Linked DNA regions of Homo sapiens. The protein of the gene in region 1 interacts with the protein of each later gene in a pairwise test. Each region holds a gene or a part of one and is shown in the gene's direction. Other genes may lie near its edges.

The links. Proteins that work in one complex are often made in the same cells at the same time.
Region 2: the proteins of PRR20A (region 1) and RBM10 interact in binary tests that used the Homo sapiens proteins (3 or more experiments, as listed by UniProt).
Region 3: the proteins of PRR20A (region 1) and ROR2 interact in a two-hybrid assay, tested with the Homo sapiens proteins (2 studies listed by BioGRID).
Region 4: the proteins of PRR20A (region 1) and RBFOX1 interact in a two-hybrid assay, tested with the Homo sapiens proteins (one large-scale study listed by BioGRID).

Annotation. Positions count from the first base shown.
Region 1 is NC_000013.11:57,139,703-57,143,787, forward strand, and holds the start of PRR20A (proline-rich protein 20A), read left to right. Parts: upstream 1-1,215; 5' UTR 1,216-1,429; intron 1,430-1,583; 5' UTR 1,584-1,602; coding exon 1,603-1,654; intron 1,655-2,675; coding exon 2,676-3,289; 3' UTR 3,290-4,085.
Region 2 is NC_000023.11:47,151,621-47,155,259, forward strand, and holds part of RBM10 (RNA-binding protein 10), read left to right. Parts: intron 1-3,639. UniProt on the Homo sapiens protein: Binds to ssRNA containing the consensus sequence 5'-AGGUAA-3'. May be involved in post-transcriptional processing, most probably in mRNA splicing. Binds to RNA homopolymers, with a preference for poly(G) and poly(U) and little for poly(A).
Region 3 is NC_000009.12:91,940,190-91,943,828, reverse strand, and holds part of ROR2 (tyrosine-protein kinase transmembrane receptor ROR2 isoform 1 precursor), read left to right. Parts: intron 1-3,639. UniProt on the Homo sapiens protein: Tyrosine-protein kinase receptor which may be involved in the early formation of the chondrocytes. It seems to be required for cartilage and growth plate development. Phosphorylates YWHAB, leading to induction of osteogenesis and bone formation.
Region 4 is NC_000016.10:7,575,924-7,579,562, forward strand, and holds part of RBFOX1 (RNA binding protein fox-1 homolog 1), read left to right. Parts: intron 1-3,639. UniProt on the Homo sapiens protein: RNA-binding protein that regulates alternative splicing events by binding to 5'-UGCAUGU-3' elements. Regulates alternative splicing of tissue-specific exons and of differentially spliced exons during erythropoiesis.

The DNA of each region.
Region 1 (4,085 bases):
TTCCTGACAAAAACATATAATTCCAGTCAGATCACAAGGAATACATCACACGAACTTCAGGAGAGGACATCCCACAATATATCTGATCAGTATTCAAAGTGTCAGAGTCATCAAAAACAAGGCAAGTGTGAGAAACCGTCGCAGCCAAGGGGAACCGTGACGAGTTGTAAGGTGGTACCCTGGATGGGGTCTTGGGACAGAAAAGGTATGTGAGGTGAAAGCATAGCAAAACCTCACTTCAACAGGAAATACAACCCAAAAAAGTAATTGGCCCGGCATGGTGGCTTGCGCCTGGGGTCCCAGCGACTCGGGAGGTTGAGCGGGACGGACGGCTTGAGCTCAGGCCTTCCAAACAAGCCTGGGCACATAGCGAAAACTCGTCTCTCCAAAAAAATCCGAAAATTATCCCGATGTGGTGGCGCTCACCTGTAGTCCAGCTACTCCGGAGGCCGAGACAGGAGAATCACTTGAACTGATTCTCCTATCTCAGCCACCCCCCCCCAACCCCCCCAAGTAGCCGCAGCGAGCCGAGATGGCACCGCTGCACTCCAGCCTGGGCTACAGAGCGAGAACCAGTCTCTGTAAAAAACACAAGGATGCAAACCAACCAAATAACCCACTGTGGGATCCCCTCCAGCGTCCTGCTGTGTTTCCCGCTGTCTTCCTCCACCCGTGAGTGCACCCACAGCAATAAAAGCCAGCGGTGTGGGTCTCACACGCATCTCCAGCCCCGTCTCACACGCACCACCTCCGGGCCTGGACTTGGCCTCCCGTCCATTCCCAGAATGTGCCGGGCTCCCTTCCAGTCCGGGCCTCAGCACACTCTCTTCACTCCCCTTCCTCCCTCCCTGCCTCTCCCAACCCGGTTCAGGATGACTAATTTCAAACGTTATGTTCCAGATTTCAGCCCAGATATCCCCGCTTTGGATGCTTTCCTTGACCATGCTCAGATCTAAGCTAATCGCATCTTCCTGTCAGCCGCTTTCAGGGCACCACACCTCATTGTGCTGACACTCAGAGGTCATTATGCAATTTTTTTTCCTCGATGATTAGATTAATCAATCAACCACGGACGTCTAGAAATGGCGGCATCTCAGAAGGGCCCCCATTTGACTGGCAGGGGACTGGCCCAATGCGCCTCGCAAGCCCAGCCAGGCCCGCCCCAGCCGGCCCCCCTCTGACGACGCCTGTCCCTTACGCGACTGCCTTGCTGCCATATAAGAGGGACGGCGCTCGGCCTCCAGCAGTCGGCTTTCTGCTGGGCTCGGAGCCAGAACCTGCTGCGTGCTCCCTCCAGACTCCCTGGCTGCGGGTGGACTACCTCAGAGCTACAGCGGTGAACCTGTGGACACCTCCGACTCCTCGGGCCTCTCTTCGTCGAAGAGTCTCCTAATTTTCAGATCTCCGGAGCCAGCTGTGGGAAGATCAGGTGTGTGTCTGGGGGTCCCGGAGGCGTGGACGGATCTCGGGTGGGTGCAGTTGGGGACAGAATCCTCATTCCCCTAGAAAGGCCACGGCCATCCCCCTGCCTTGTCACCTCTGTCTTCCTAAATCCGTTCTTGCTCTCTTGTTTTTCTCCCCAGCCCCTCCCGCCGATTGCTCATGGAGGAACCAAGGCCTTCGAAGCGACTTCGCTCCATGGCCCCTAATCAAGGTACATCAAACGCCTGCCACTCCTCTCTTTTTAATTTCGTCTGTTCCCCAATTCTTCCCCAATGGTTGACACTCAAACTCAATCAAGCATTCTCTGTTTCACCTTCTCCTAGCCTGCCTCAACCTGGGCTGCTTGTTGGAAGTCAGCTCCCGGGTTCCACATCATCTGGGAAATTCCTTTCCCTCTTCCGAACCGTAATCCCATTTCCCAAATCTGAGATTTGCTGTTGTTGTCGCTGTTTCCTTCTGTTTAGTTTTGTATTACTGTTTCTCCGTAGCAGAGCGAGTCCTCACGCTACGTCTTGATCTATGATAAACCGGTACTTCCACCTTGTTCTTTCCCGGAGGAGTTGGAATTTTCCGGCTGTTGCCACGTTGTTCTCCAAAACTTTTCCCTTCATACGCTGAGTGTCCTAAATCTTTTAATCTTGTCTAGTTTGACAGATGCATAACAATAAAGCATCCACTGAAAGGAAATTCTTTAACATCTTGCTTGTCTGAAACATCTTCATTCTCCCCTCCCAGATTCTTCAGCGAAACTTCGGTTGGACAGGAAATTTTAGGTGGGAAATTCATTTCCCTTGAAATTTCGAAGACATTTTCTGTTATGTTCTAGACTGAACTGCTGCTTTTGAGATGTCTGACTTTTGAGACATGTGGAATCCTAGCCCTTTCCATGTGACTTTTCCTTTCTCTGTCTCCCGCTCTCTAGAATCTGTTAGAATCTTCTCTTTTTCCTCAGCACTCTGAAATTTTCTGGTGAAATGTCTCAGCCACAGCATACCTCTAATTCTCTTATATTTCATCCTTCTTTCCATCATTTTAGGTTTTTGCTTTGTTCTGTGGGAGACCTTCTCAACTTCATTCTCCAACTTCCGTGGAGAGTTTTGTTTCTTCTCTCACAATTTTAACTTCAGAAATCCCTCTTTTCTCTGAGTATTTATTTGTAAAAGTATCCTATAACTGCTTGACGGGTGAAGTTCCTTCTGTCTCTCTCTGCTCACGCTCCGCTTCTCTTTTAGCCTCAGGTGGGCCTCCTCCAGAGCCAGGCTGCTGTGTTGCGGACCCTGAAGGCTCCGTGGAAGCAGATGGGCCCGCACAGCCAGCCCAACCCGCAAAACCCATCGCTTACGTGAAACCCTTCAGACGGCAGCCCCCAGCTCGCCCAGAGTCACCCCCTCCTGCAGAGAGAGGCCGGCGCCGGGGAGGAAGCCGGCGGCCAGGGCGAGGCCGTGGCAGAAGGGCTGGGCCCCGCGGGGACGCTGGCCAGAGACAGGGGGCAGAAGGCTTGATGGCACCGGACGTGCACATCCAACTGGACCACCATGGAGAGCCAGGCCACCAGGGGGAACCGGAAATCACGGAGACCGCAGCCTTCTCCCTTTCTGAAACAGGTCCTCCGCCTGGAACTGTGCAGGAAGGCCCTGGCCCCGACGTGGCGCAACCTGAGCTGGGGTTTCAGGAGCCGCCCGCTGCTCCTGGGCCTCAGGCTGTTGACTGGCAACCCGTCTTGACCCTCTATCCCTGCATCGGGTTTAGGGCTCTGGGTGACTCAGCGGTTTTACAAGTCATTCAAACCCCCCAGGGCACCTACGTGCAAGGGGTCCCAGTGTTCCTCACCGACATTGCGTATTGACCACTATCTGCCACCCACGTTGTTCCCAGCCTCCCTTCCTTCCACCTGGACGTTCCCCCCAGCCCCACTTCTGCTCCACTCCTCCCCCGACTGGACCTGAAGCCTGAGCTTCCCCTGAACTTGGAGTACGCAACTTACAACATGCAAGCTGCCAAACACCCTTTCTGTACAAGGCGATTGGAATGGAACTGTCATGTACAGTGAAAGTACACGTCACGTTTTTCAGCCAAGAAGAAGCCAACCCAGACAACCTGGAAGAAGTGGGATGCAACAAGGATCACTAAGCATGGAAATTAGGAAACTGTATTCTTAAGTCCAGAGAAGTACGATTCTGGAAAAAGGATTGATGACCTAGAATTAAAATTCCAGAAGACACTCATATAGACATGTGGGACATGCGAAAACTCAGAAGGAGCTAGAAGTTACTAAAGTGCTTCTCTAGTGCCTGGAGACGATAGACTGGCTGAATATAAGAGCAATAAAAATCTAGACTGACACATTTTTAAGTCTCAACGTGGGTACCCTTTGGGAACCACTAAATGAATTGGAATAGAAGGTAAAATTTCAAACAGATTGAGGAAAAAGGGGATCAAAGGACATGTGACGAATCAGACAAAAGGTGTTGGGGTGGGGGGGGGGGCGGTTAACGGAAGCAAGGAGAGTGCATGACTCACTGGAACCGCTAAACCAGGAATCAGTAATTTGACGGCAGTGTCCTTGGCTTCCTCCTGGCTTTAATGGGAATATTTTGAATGTTTCACCATTAACCAAGATGTTGGCTGTAGGTGTCTCTTAG
Region 2 (3,639 bases), on another chromosome or scaffold:
AGACAAGATAGTTTACTTTTCTTTCCCATAAAGGCAGTCTGCAGAAGAGCAATTAATCTAGGGCTGACAGGCAGCCCCTTCTGTGTAGCCATCCTCAGCACATGGCAGTTGAGACAGTAGGAAGAAGGGAGAGGAATAAAAGGGAATGTGTCTAAAGTTTCTCCATTAAGTATGGTGCATGCAGTAAGTTTTTAGAATGTATCCTTTAATAAATCAAGAAAATTATCTAATCTTCGTTTGCTAAGATTGACCATAAATAAGTATTGAACTTCAAAATCCTGTGCTTTTTTTCTCCCTTTGTCCATTAATTTCATAAATTGTGGCCTGGCATGGTGGATCACAGCACCTTGGGAGGCCAAGGTGGTTGGATCGCTTGAGGCCAGGAGTTCAAGACCAGCCTGGCCAACATGGTGAAACCTCATTTCTACTAAAAATAAAAAAATCAGCCAGGCGTGGTGAAGCATGTCTGTAATCCCAGCTACTGGGGAGACTGAGACATGAGAATCGCTTGAACCTGGGAGGTGGAGGTTGCAATAAGCTGAGATCGTGCCACTGCACTCCATCCTGGGCAACAGAGTGAGACTCCATATCAAAAAAATAAATAAAAATTTTGTAAATTGCATTAAATGATATCCTTGGCATTCTTGAGCTATACCCCACTTGATCATGGTATGTATGTATATGTTTATGACTTCTTACTTTGAAAATATCTCAAATTTACAGAAAGGTTGCAAGAAAAAGTATAATGAATTCCCATATATCCTCTACTCAGAATTACTTGTTTTAAGTATTTTGCCACATTTGCTCTATCACTCTATATCTTTTTTTTTTTTTTTTTTTTTTTTTGAGACGGAATCACTCTGTCACCCAGGCTGGAGTGCAATGGCGTGATCTTGGCTCACTGCAACCTCCGCCTCCTGTGTTCAAGCAATTCTCCTGCCTCAGCCTTCCAAGTAGCTGGGATTACACGCGCCTGCCAGTACGCCTGGCTAATTTTTGTATTTTTATTAGAAACGAGGTTTCACCATGTTGGTCAGGTTGGTCTCAAACTCCTGACCTCAGGTGATCCACCTGCCTCAGCTTCCCAAAGTGCTGGAATTACAGGCGTGAGCTACCGCGCCTGGCCCACCCTATAGCTCTATATCTTTACATAGACACACACACACACACACACACACACACACACACACACACACGTTTTTTTTAATCGTTTGAGTTGGTGGCAGCCATGACTTTTCTTTTTGAGTCAGAGTTTCACTCTTGTTGCCCAGGCTGGAGTGCAATGGTGCAATCTCGGCCCACTGCAACCTCTTCCTCCTGCATTCAAGCGATTCTCCTGCCTCAGTCTCCCAAGTAGCTGGGATTACAGGCATGCGTCACCACACCCAGCTAATTTTGTATTTTTAGTAGAGACAGGATTTTTCCATGTTGATCAGGCTGGTTTCAAACTCCCGACCTCAGGTGATCCGCCCATCTCGGCCTCCCAAAGTGCTGGGATTACAGGCATGAGCCACCACATCCAGCCTGACATGACCTTTTAAGTCTGGCAGCATGTACGTCTTAAGAACAAAGGTGTTCTCTTCCATAACCACAATATACTTATCAATATCAGGAAATTAAACAATTATATAGTACTTTTATTCTATATAAAGCCCATATTCAGATGTTATCACTCTTCTCAATAATGTCCTTTATAATGGTTTTCCCCAATCCAGGATCCAGTCCAAGATCATGTATTGCATTGAGCTCCTTGTCTCCTTTAATCTGAAACAGTTATTCTATCTTTGTCTTTTATGACCTTGTCATTTTTTTTTTTCCTGAACCTATGGATTATATTGAAAGCATGTTTTAAAGTTAGTTGTTTTATAGAATGTTTCTCAGTTTGGATTTTTCTGATGCTTACTCATGAGTTTTTGGCAGAAATGTTATTTAAGTGATTTATGTATATTTTTAAAACCTTGTTAGATTTTATTAGCCATTGTATCATCTAGGATATCTACACCTGTATTTATCAGTGAGGTAGTCCAATATTTTTATTTTCAGTATTTATCTGGCATTGGAATCAAGGTAGCCTCATTACATGAATTGGGCAGCCTTTGTTATTCTCTCTTTATTGGAGAAACTTGTATAAGAATTATCTGTACCTCGAAAAACTTGGTAGGACTCACCTTTAAAAGCATCTGGAGGCTGGGCGCAGTGGGCTGAGGCAGTTGGATCACTTGAACCCAGGAATTCGAGACGATCCTGGGCAACATGGCGAAACTCTGTCTCTACAAAAAATACAAAAATTAGCTGGGCGTGGTGGCAGGTGCCTATAGTTCTAACTACTCAGGAGGCTGAGGCAGGAGGATTACCTGAGTCTGGGAGGTTGAGACTGTGGTAAGCCATGATCATGCCACTGCACTCCAGCCTCAGTGACAGAGTGACACCCTGTCTCAAAAAATAATAAAATAAAAGCATCTGGAGCTGGTTTTTGATTACCATTTCATCTCTTCTGCCAATTTTAGCATTTTATATTTTCTAGAAATATACTCATTTTGTGAAGATCCTCATATATGATGATTCAGTCCAGCATCCTAGAAATGCTTTATAAAAGGGATATGCCTTTGGAAGGTGTTTGTTCAGAGTGCTTTGGTGGCCAATTAAAAATATTCCTTTCTATCCAAATATGTTCCCTTCCTGAGTTTAGATAGCAAGAGTTCAATACCTGAATTTATTTGGTTTGGATATTGGATGTCAAGAGAGTTCAGGATAATTTCATCTGAAAATTTATAAATTTATTCATATCTGTTCAGTTCTTGATTTTTTTTCCTTTTTTTTTTGTTTGTTTGTTTGTTTGTTTTTGTTTGTGGAGATAGTCTCACTCTGTCTTCCAGGCTGGAGTTCAGTGGTGCGATCTTGGCTCACCGCAACCTCTGCTTTCCAGGCTCAGGGGATTCTTGTGCCTCAGCTTCCTGAGTAGCAAGGATTACAGGCCCGTGCCACCACACCCGGCTAATTTTTGTATTTTAGTAGAGACGGGGTTTCACCATGTTTGCCAGACTGGTCTCGAACTCCGTACCTCAGGTGATCCACTCGCTTCAGCCTCCGAAAGTGCTGGGATTACAGGTGTGAGCCACCATGATGGCCCAGTTCTTGAATTTTGATGACTACAGTTCAAATTGATTGTATCAAGAACCTTATAACTACTCATACCACTGACAGTGATTTCTTCTCTAGGCATTTACGGTAGGGAAACAATTTGGGGCCAGGTGTGGTGGCTCACGCCTGTAATCCCAGCACTTTGGGAGGCCGAGGCGGGTGAATCACGAGGTCAGGAGTTTGGGACCAGCCTGGCCAACATGATGAAACCCCATCTCTACTAAAAATACAAAAAATTAGCTGGGTGTGGTGGCAGGCACCTGTAATCCCAGCTACTCGGGAGGCTGAGGAAGGACAATCGCTTGAACCCAGGAGGTGGAAGTTGCAGTGAGCCAAGATCACGCCACTGCACTCCAGCCCGGAGGACAGTGCGAGACTCCCTCTCAAAAAAAAAAAAAAAAAAAAAAGAGTTTGGGTTCCAAGCTGAGTTCGTGGGGACAGGGACTTTATTTTGTTCACAGCAGTATCCCCATTACCTAGAACAGTACTTATCGTATA
Region 3 (3,639 bases), on another chromosome or scaffold:
TCTACAAGTTCAAAAAATAAATCACTAAGAATAGCAGGAAACTAGAATTGAATACAAAGAAGCACATAAATGCAAATGTGTTGCAAATGAGTAACATGACTACACAGATGGGGGAAAAGAAACCGTAATGTTGGACTCAGTGCTTTGACGGTGTATCCTCAGCCTACAGGAGAAACAACAACCTGAAAGCAAAACTGGCACCCTTCTTAGTAGGTTTGATTTTCATAGTGGTGTGGGTATATCCATTCTGAAATGACTTTGTGTGAATTGTGAGATTAGACAGATAAGAAGTGTGTTAATAGTGTTGTAGCCAGGGTGCTCACTGAGGAAGGAGGGAGATATAAGGATGGAATAGGGGAAGGCAAGGAAGAATCTGGAGGGGTTGAATTGGAATTGGAGGTATCAGTGTAACTCATGCTTTCATTTATATATATATTTGGTATATATTATGTTAAATTATGCACCGTAATTTGTAAAACATACTCTACACATAACAGTTATTTCTTAGCACCTCATTAGCAGTGAGCTTTCTTAGTGCCCAGATGTTGGTTTCTCAATACTGTTGCATCTTAAAGGAGCTAGAGAACCTTGGAGAAATGACTGAATATGGGATGGGGACAGGGAAAAATACACAATAAGCCTGAAACGTGTTCTTGTGTTAGAACGCAAGTGAGTGGTGAAAAGTGGTGGGGGCATGGCAGATGTACTCAGGGGCCAACTTGAAGGAGTTGCAGCCAAGTCTGGGACCATTTAGGCATCAGAATAAATAAAGACAAGCATGGATTATACAAGGAACAAAATAGGCATCCAGGACTCACCATTGATAATAAGTACATAACTATATGTATGAGTTTCTTAGGCCTGCTGTAGCAAAATGCCATAAACGGGGTGACCTAAAAACCAGAAATGTATTCTCCCACAGTTTTAGAGGCTAGAAGTCCAAAATCAAGGTGGCGGCAGGGCCACGATCCCTCCCAGGGCTCTAGGGGAGAAAACTTTTTTGCCTCTTTTAGTTCCTGGTGGCTCATGGTGCCCTTGGTTTGGAGCTATATCACTTTGACTTCTATCGCCATTTTCACATGACCTTTTATTGTAAGGACACCAGTGATTGGATTTAGGGACCACTGTAAATACAGGATGATTTAATCTCATGTTCCTTATTACTACTGGAAAGACTATTTCCAAATAAGGTCACTTTCTGAGCTTCTGGGTGGATAGGGAAACACTAATTTACTACAAAACCTAAGTGGGAGGGGTGGGGAAGAGAGGGCACTTCCTAGAGCAAAGTGCCAACTGATAAATGGGAGGCGAGTTGGGAATAATCACATTTTACAGCAATAACTGTACGGATTGATTTGGGCAGGCGTCATGAATGAGTGCTAAACTCATTAAAGAAGACATGTTTGATGAGGAGCAGGAAATGTCTGTGGTCTCAAAGGATTTCCCCACAGATTCCTTGTTGGCAAGGGACAGTTGCTAACTGTAGACTGGCGAGATTTGCATCCCAATACCTGGGTGGTCCAGGTTAATGCCACAGATTTGGGCAGATGGATGCCGTCCTTCCCAAGAGCATACATCATTTAGGTTGCTTTCTATCTGGGGAAGAGAGTCTGATTATGAGCAAAAATCAGCAAACGAAATGGAGGGACATTCTATGAAACAATGGTCTGTAGCAAAAATTGTCGAGGACATGAGCGATGAAACAGGGCAGGCCAGGTCCAGCTTGAAGAAGACCACAGGGGCCTGGTGTGGTGGCTCACGCCTGTAATCCTAGCACTTTGGGAGGCTGAGGCCAGCGGATCACAAGGTCAGGAATTCAAGACCAGCCTGGCCAACATGGTGAAACCTCGTCCTCACTAAAAATACAAAAGTTAGCCGGGCGTGGTGACATGTGCCTGTAATTCCAGCTACTAGGGAGGCTGAAGCAGGAGAATCACTTGAACCCGGGAGGTGGAGGCTGCAGTGAGCCGAGATCGTGCCACTACACTCCAGTCTGGGCAGCAGAGCAACACCCTGTCTCAAAAATGAAAGAGAAGAGAAGAGAAGAGAAAGGAGGGCAGGGCGGGGCTGGGCGGGGTGGGGAGACAGTACAATACAGTACACCACAGGGTAGGTAGAGAAGACAGTACAATACAATACACCACAGGGACAAGGCAGTCCAGTGCATGTGCTGGCCCTGACCCTGTGCTGGAGGGAAAAACATGCTGTCGTGGATACTAACGGAACCACTGAGGAAATTGGAAGGTGAGCGTAAGTTATTTAAACGTGTTGTCAGACTTGTCTTTCCTGAGTTTGTTAATTGTGCAGAGGTGGTGTAAGAGGATGTCTGTACTCATAGGACATACACGCTGCCATGTTAAAGGATAAAGGGGCTTGATGTCTCCAGCCTACTATTGTCATCTCAGACCATGATAAAGCCCATGGGGCAAGAGTGACACATTAGTGAACCTGGGCAAAGAGTAGAGGGAAGTTTCATGCACCATTCTTGTAACTTCTCTGTAAAGGCGAAATGGTTTCAAAGTAAAGAATTAAGGCCGGGCACGGTGGCTCACGCCTGTAATCCCAGCACTTCTGGAGGCTGAGGCGGGGGGATCACGAGGTCAGCAGATCGAGACCATCTTGGCTAACACGGTGAAACCCCGTCTCTACTAAAAATACAAAAAATTAGCTGGGCACGGTGGTGGGCGCCTGTAGTCCCAGCTACTTGGGAGGCTGAGGCAGGAGAATGGTGTGAACCCAGGAGGCGGAGCTTGCAGTGAGCCGAGATAGCGCCATGGCAGTCTGGCCTGGGTGAAAGAGCGAGACTCCATCTCAAAAAAAAAAAAAAAAAAAAGAATTAAAAATGTTAAATTCTAACAATGGATGGCTGAAGCCAGTGCAATGAACAATGGAGTTTAGCACATGCTGTTAAAAGAAAGACTCAAGGCCCGGCGAGGTGGTGGCTCACGCCTGTAATCCCAGCACTTTGGGAGGCTGAGGAAGGTGAATCACCTGAGGTCAGGGGTTCAAGACCAGCCTGTCCAAAATGGTGAAACCCCATCTCTACTAAAAATACAAAAATTAGCCGGGGGTGGGGGCTGGGTGCCTGTAATCCCAACTACTCGGGAGGCCGAGACAGAGACAGGAGGATCACTTGGACCCAGGAGGCAGAGGTCACAGTGAGCGGAGATCGAGCCACTGCACTCTAGCCTGGGTGACAGAGCAAGACTCTGTCTCAAGAAAAAAAAAAAAAAAGAATTGCACGTTATGATTTTATTGGAAATGGTGTCACAGGGACTGAGGATGGATGCGATCCAGGTGCTTTTGAGGCCAGACAGCATTTCATTGAAGGGACTGAAAATCTCTGTCTTTGTCTAGTTTCTGGATTGCCCCAAGTTTTCTGATTTTTCTTTCTTAAGATTTTTATTATAGAAATTCCAACACACATAAAATTAGACGACTGCAGTGAACCGCTGTATATTTTTCACTCAGCTTCAACAGTTGCCACGTTCATTTCGTTTCATTTCCCCCGGCCTACTTAACAGTCCCCAGACAGCCTTAATTGTTTACCTGAAAATACTTCAGCATGAATGGTAAGAACTGTTTTTTTCACACCATCTCAATACTGTTATCAACAAGGAGCCCTGGTGTTGTCTGATA
Region 4 (3,639 bases), on another chromosome or scaffold:
CATTAGTGTCCTTTTTGTTTTTGTTTTAGAGGCAGAGTCTTGCTCCATTGCCCAGGCTGGAGTGCAGTGGCATGATCTTCCCTCACTGCAGCCTTGATCTCCTGGGCTCCAGCCATCTCCCACCTCGGTCTCCCAAGTAGCTGGGATGGCAGGCACATGGCCATGATCAGCTATTTTTTTTTTTTTTAATTTATTTAGTGGAGACAGGGTCTCACTATGTTGCAGGCTGGTGTCAAATGATCCTCCCACCTTAGCCTGCCAAAGTGCTGGGATTACAGGCATGAGCCACTGCACCTAGCCCCATTACCCCATTAATGTCCTTTGATGGAAAAGTAAAGTGAAGGTCAGAGAAGAAAAGTGACCTGCCTAAGATTAGCAAATAACAGGGATGGTCTGTGTGATTCCAAAACCCTGGTTCATTGTGCTGCATCCCACCATATAAAAGGCATGCAGGCTGAAAGAGATTTCCTTTTTCTGTTGTTTTATTCACTCCTCAACCTCTACTTCCTAACACTCTTCTTTTTCCCTTTCCATACACCCACAATGACCTGAAACACTTTTGGCTTACTTTTTTATTTTGCATGCTTTAAGGATTCTTTTTAATACACAGGTATTTCTCCATAACAGTTTATACGCATTTGTATATAAGCATACACTACAAAATGATTAATTGAGCGTTGTATGTTTTTATCAAAGGAAACAATGCAAAGATTTCTCCAAAGTGCTGTTTGACTAGAGATGATTAATTTTAATTTTCACATGAGCGGTATAATGCTATTAATCATTTAATATGTTTAATCATAATCTCTGTAATTCCTAATTAGGTTCATTAAACTGAAACATCCAGCAGTTATACACAAATCCAAATCTATGTTTCCTTCTCAGGATAAGAAGGAGCTCATTTTGTTTTTGCATTGAAACGGGAACTTCTAACAGGATGGAAGAGAATGGACTGGAAGCTTAGGGTTTCAGCTACAGCATCTGTAAACTCCGAGTCTGGGTGTAGAGTACTAAAACCCCTTAACTTCTGAAAAGTGACAGTTGCAGGATTCGAGCTCATTTCTGTGTCATGGACGTGGCACCAAACCTCGTATTCTCAGCGGAGAAAACGCAAATTCTGCTCTGTTTGGGTTTCAGTGTTACAGTGTTGCTCTTCGACTATCACATGAAGGCGGCGACATTGATTGTACACTTCTTCATGCATTTGTTTATTCGTGTACTAATAATTCATTCGGTCAGTGAGTGAGCCAACTGTTAAACAGACATTTATCATTTGTGTTACAAGCTGGTCATACCACACTCCTGCTGTGACCCTTAGGTGGCTCCTTATTGCTCTTAGGATGAAGCTCAGACTCTTGCTTTGCACAGTGTCCTTTGATCTAGCCCCTTGACTATCTTTGAAACCTGTCCTCCTGCCTTCCCTTCATACATGCCTCATCTGACCAGTGGTGCTGGAGTCCACACATACTCTCCTGAATCCAAGACATCATTTCACATCTCTGCACATCTGCACATGCACTGCCCTGTCTTGGAATAGCCTCAGTCCTTTTCACCTCTTCTCTTAGACATCTCCCACTTAACGTTTAACCTCCAGAATTGGCAAGCCTGGCTGAACCTCCAGCAGTGTCATATGACCTTGATTTAAGGTTACTCAGCCCTTTGTGATTGCCTCTTATCCCAACATTTACCAGTCTCTGGGGATGGTGGCTCACGCCTGTAGTCCCAGTGCTTTGGGAGGCAGAGGCAGAGGCAGGAGGATCACTTGAGGCCAGAGGTTCAAGACCAGCCTGGGCAACTTAGTGTGACCCAGGCTCTGCAAATAAAAATTAGCTGGGTATAATGGCTCATGCCTGTAATCCTAGCTACTTGGAAGGCTGATGTGGCAAGATTGAGCCCAGGATTTCAAGGCTTCAGTGAGCCGTGATTGTGCCATGGCATTCCAGCCTGAGTGACAGAGCAAGACCCAACTCCAAGAAAACAACAACAAAAGACAATGACAAAATGATTCTATTTATGATTGTTTTTCTCTATTGGTGTCATGCACTAAAGTTGGAATTGCATGTGACAAGGAGGGCTGATTTATGTGTCCAACACAAAGCAGTTGCTCAGTAAAGATGTGTAAACACTTTAAAAATAAGCAAATGAAAACCTTTCCTTCGTGTTTCTCAAAGGAGGTTTATTTCTCTTTTTGGTATTTAAAAAACTTGCCATCATTCTAAACATTTCGTCACTTTCCATTTATTGAATACATACCAGGAACTTGGCCAAGTTAGCACACATTAATCAATCACAAAGCCTCAAAAGGTATGAACTCATTATTCTTTATTTACCAGTTAAGAAAATGACCACTGTACTGCTTCCTATTCAATCCAACAGTATAGGCAAAATGACTAAATACATTGTCTAAATACATGACTTGCACTTAAAAGCTGAAGTCAACTGGTAGGTCTTTTGATACCAGAGCATCTTGGAAGAATGGTTTGCCAGCTAACAAGATGTCTTTATTTCAAAATGCGATTCAGGGTGTGTTAGGAAGGAAAATGCAAATGAAACCTTCCAGTACATACCAGGGCTGATGAGAAACTTGCTAATTATGCCCATGTTATCTGAGTGTTTGTTTTGTATTTCACTTTGTAAGATTGTCTTCTCTCGGTCGTTATTATTTTACACCTGGCTGCCTACATTGATAGTTTTGTCCCAATTATGTACTTCTAGATTGCTTATAAACAGGTCAGGATGATTCCTCACTCATAAATTTGATAGGCTTCTGTGTAAGCTTTCTATCATAGTTTCAAAGTTGGTATCTGATGTGGATGGCATTTACTGCCAGCTGGAGGCAATAGTTGCTAATTGCAGAGAAGTATCAAATGCTAAATGTCTGAAATGTTAAAACTCTAGAACCGAGAGTATGGCAGTGGCTATAATGATACCTAATGTGACTGTGACTTTTCCCCTCGTTCCTGCCAAATATGTGGGTGTCAATGTAACGTCATGTTATACAGCCTTATTTGGAAGACAGGGGAGGTGAAACAATCAGTTATGCTGATGATGTTACATGGTCTAGGCAAACAGAGCACAACAGCACTTTCTGCAGAGATGGAAACGTTCTGTATTTGCATTATTCAGTATGGAAGCAATAACTACATGTGGTTCTTGAGCGCTTGAAATGCAGCTAATGCAAACAAAGTTAAATATCTTGTTTTAATTCAGTTAAATGTAAATTGTCACATGTGGTCAACTGTAGTGGACAGCAAAAGTTTGTACAATTAGAACCTCAAAAGAATAAGTCAATCAGCTGGTTATTTGAACTCCAGAATGCCAACTAGTCTTTTCACATTTTTTACATTTAATTATGTTTTATCTGCACAATTACCTGAACAATTATGTAGGCATATCTTCAGATTCTGAACAGCGTCGGTTAAGAAATACACACTGTCCTGCCTTTAAAGATTATTACCCCCTTCTTGATGAGGTTCTCGCTCCCCACCTCCCAACCCCAGCAGCTCCCAGTCCCCTTCCTTTGCTTTTTCTAGCCTATAGTGCTTTTCTCTGTCTGCCAACACTCTATCTATGGATTTATTGTCTGTGTTGCCCTCATGAGAATGATGCTCCCTGAGGGCAGGGATTTTTGTCTGCTTT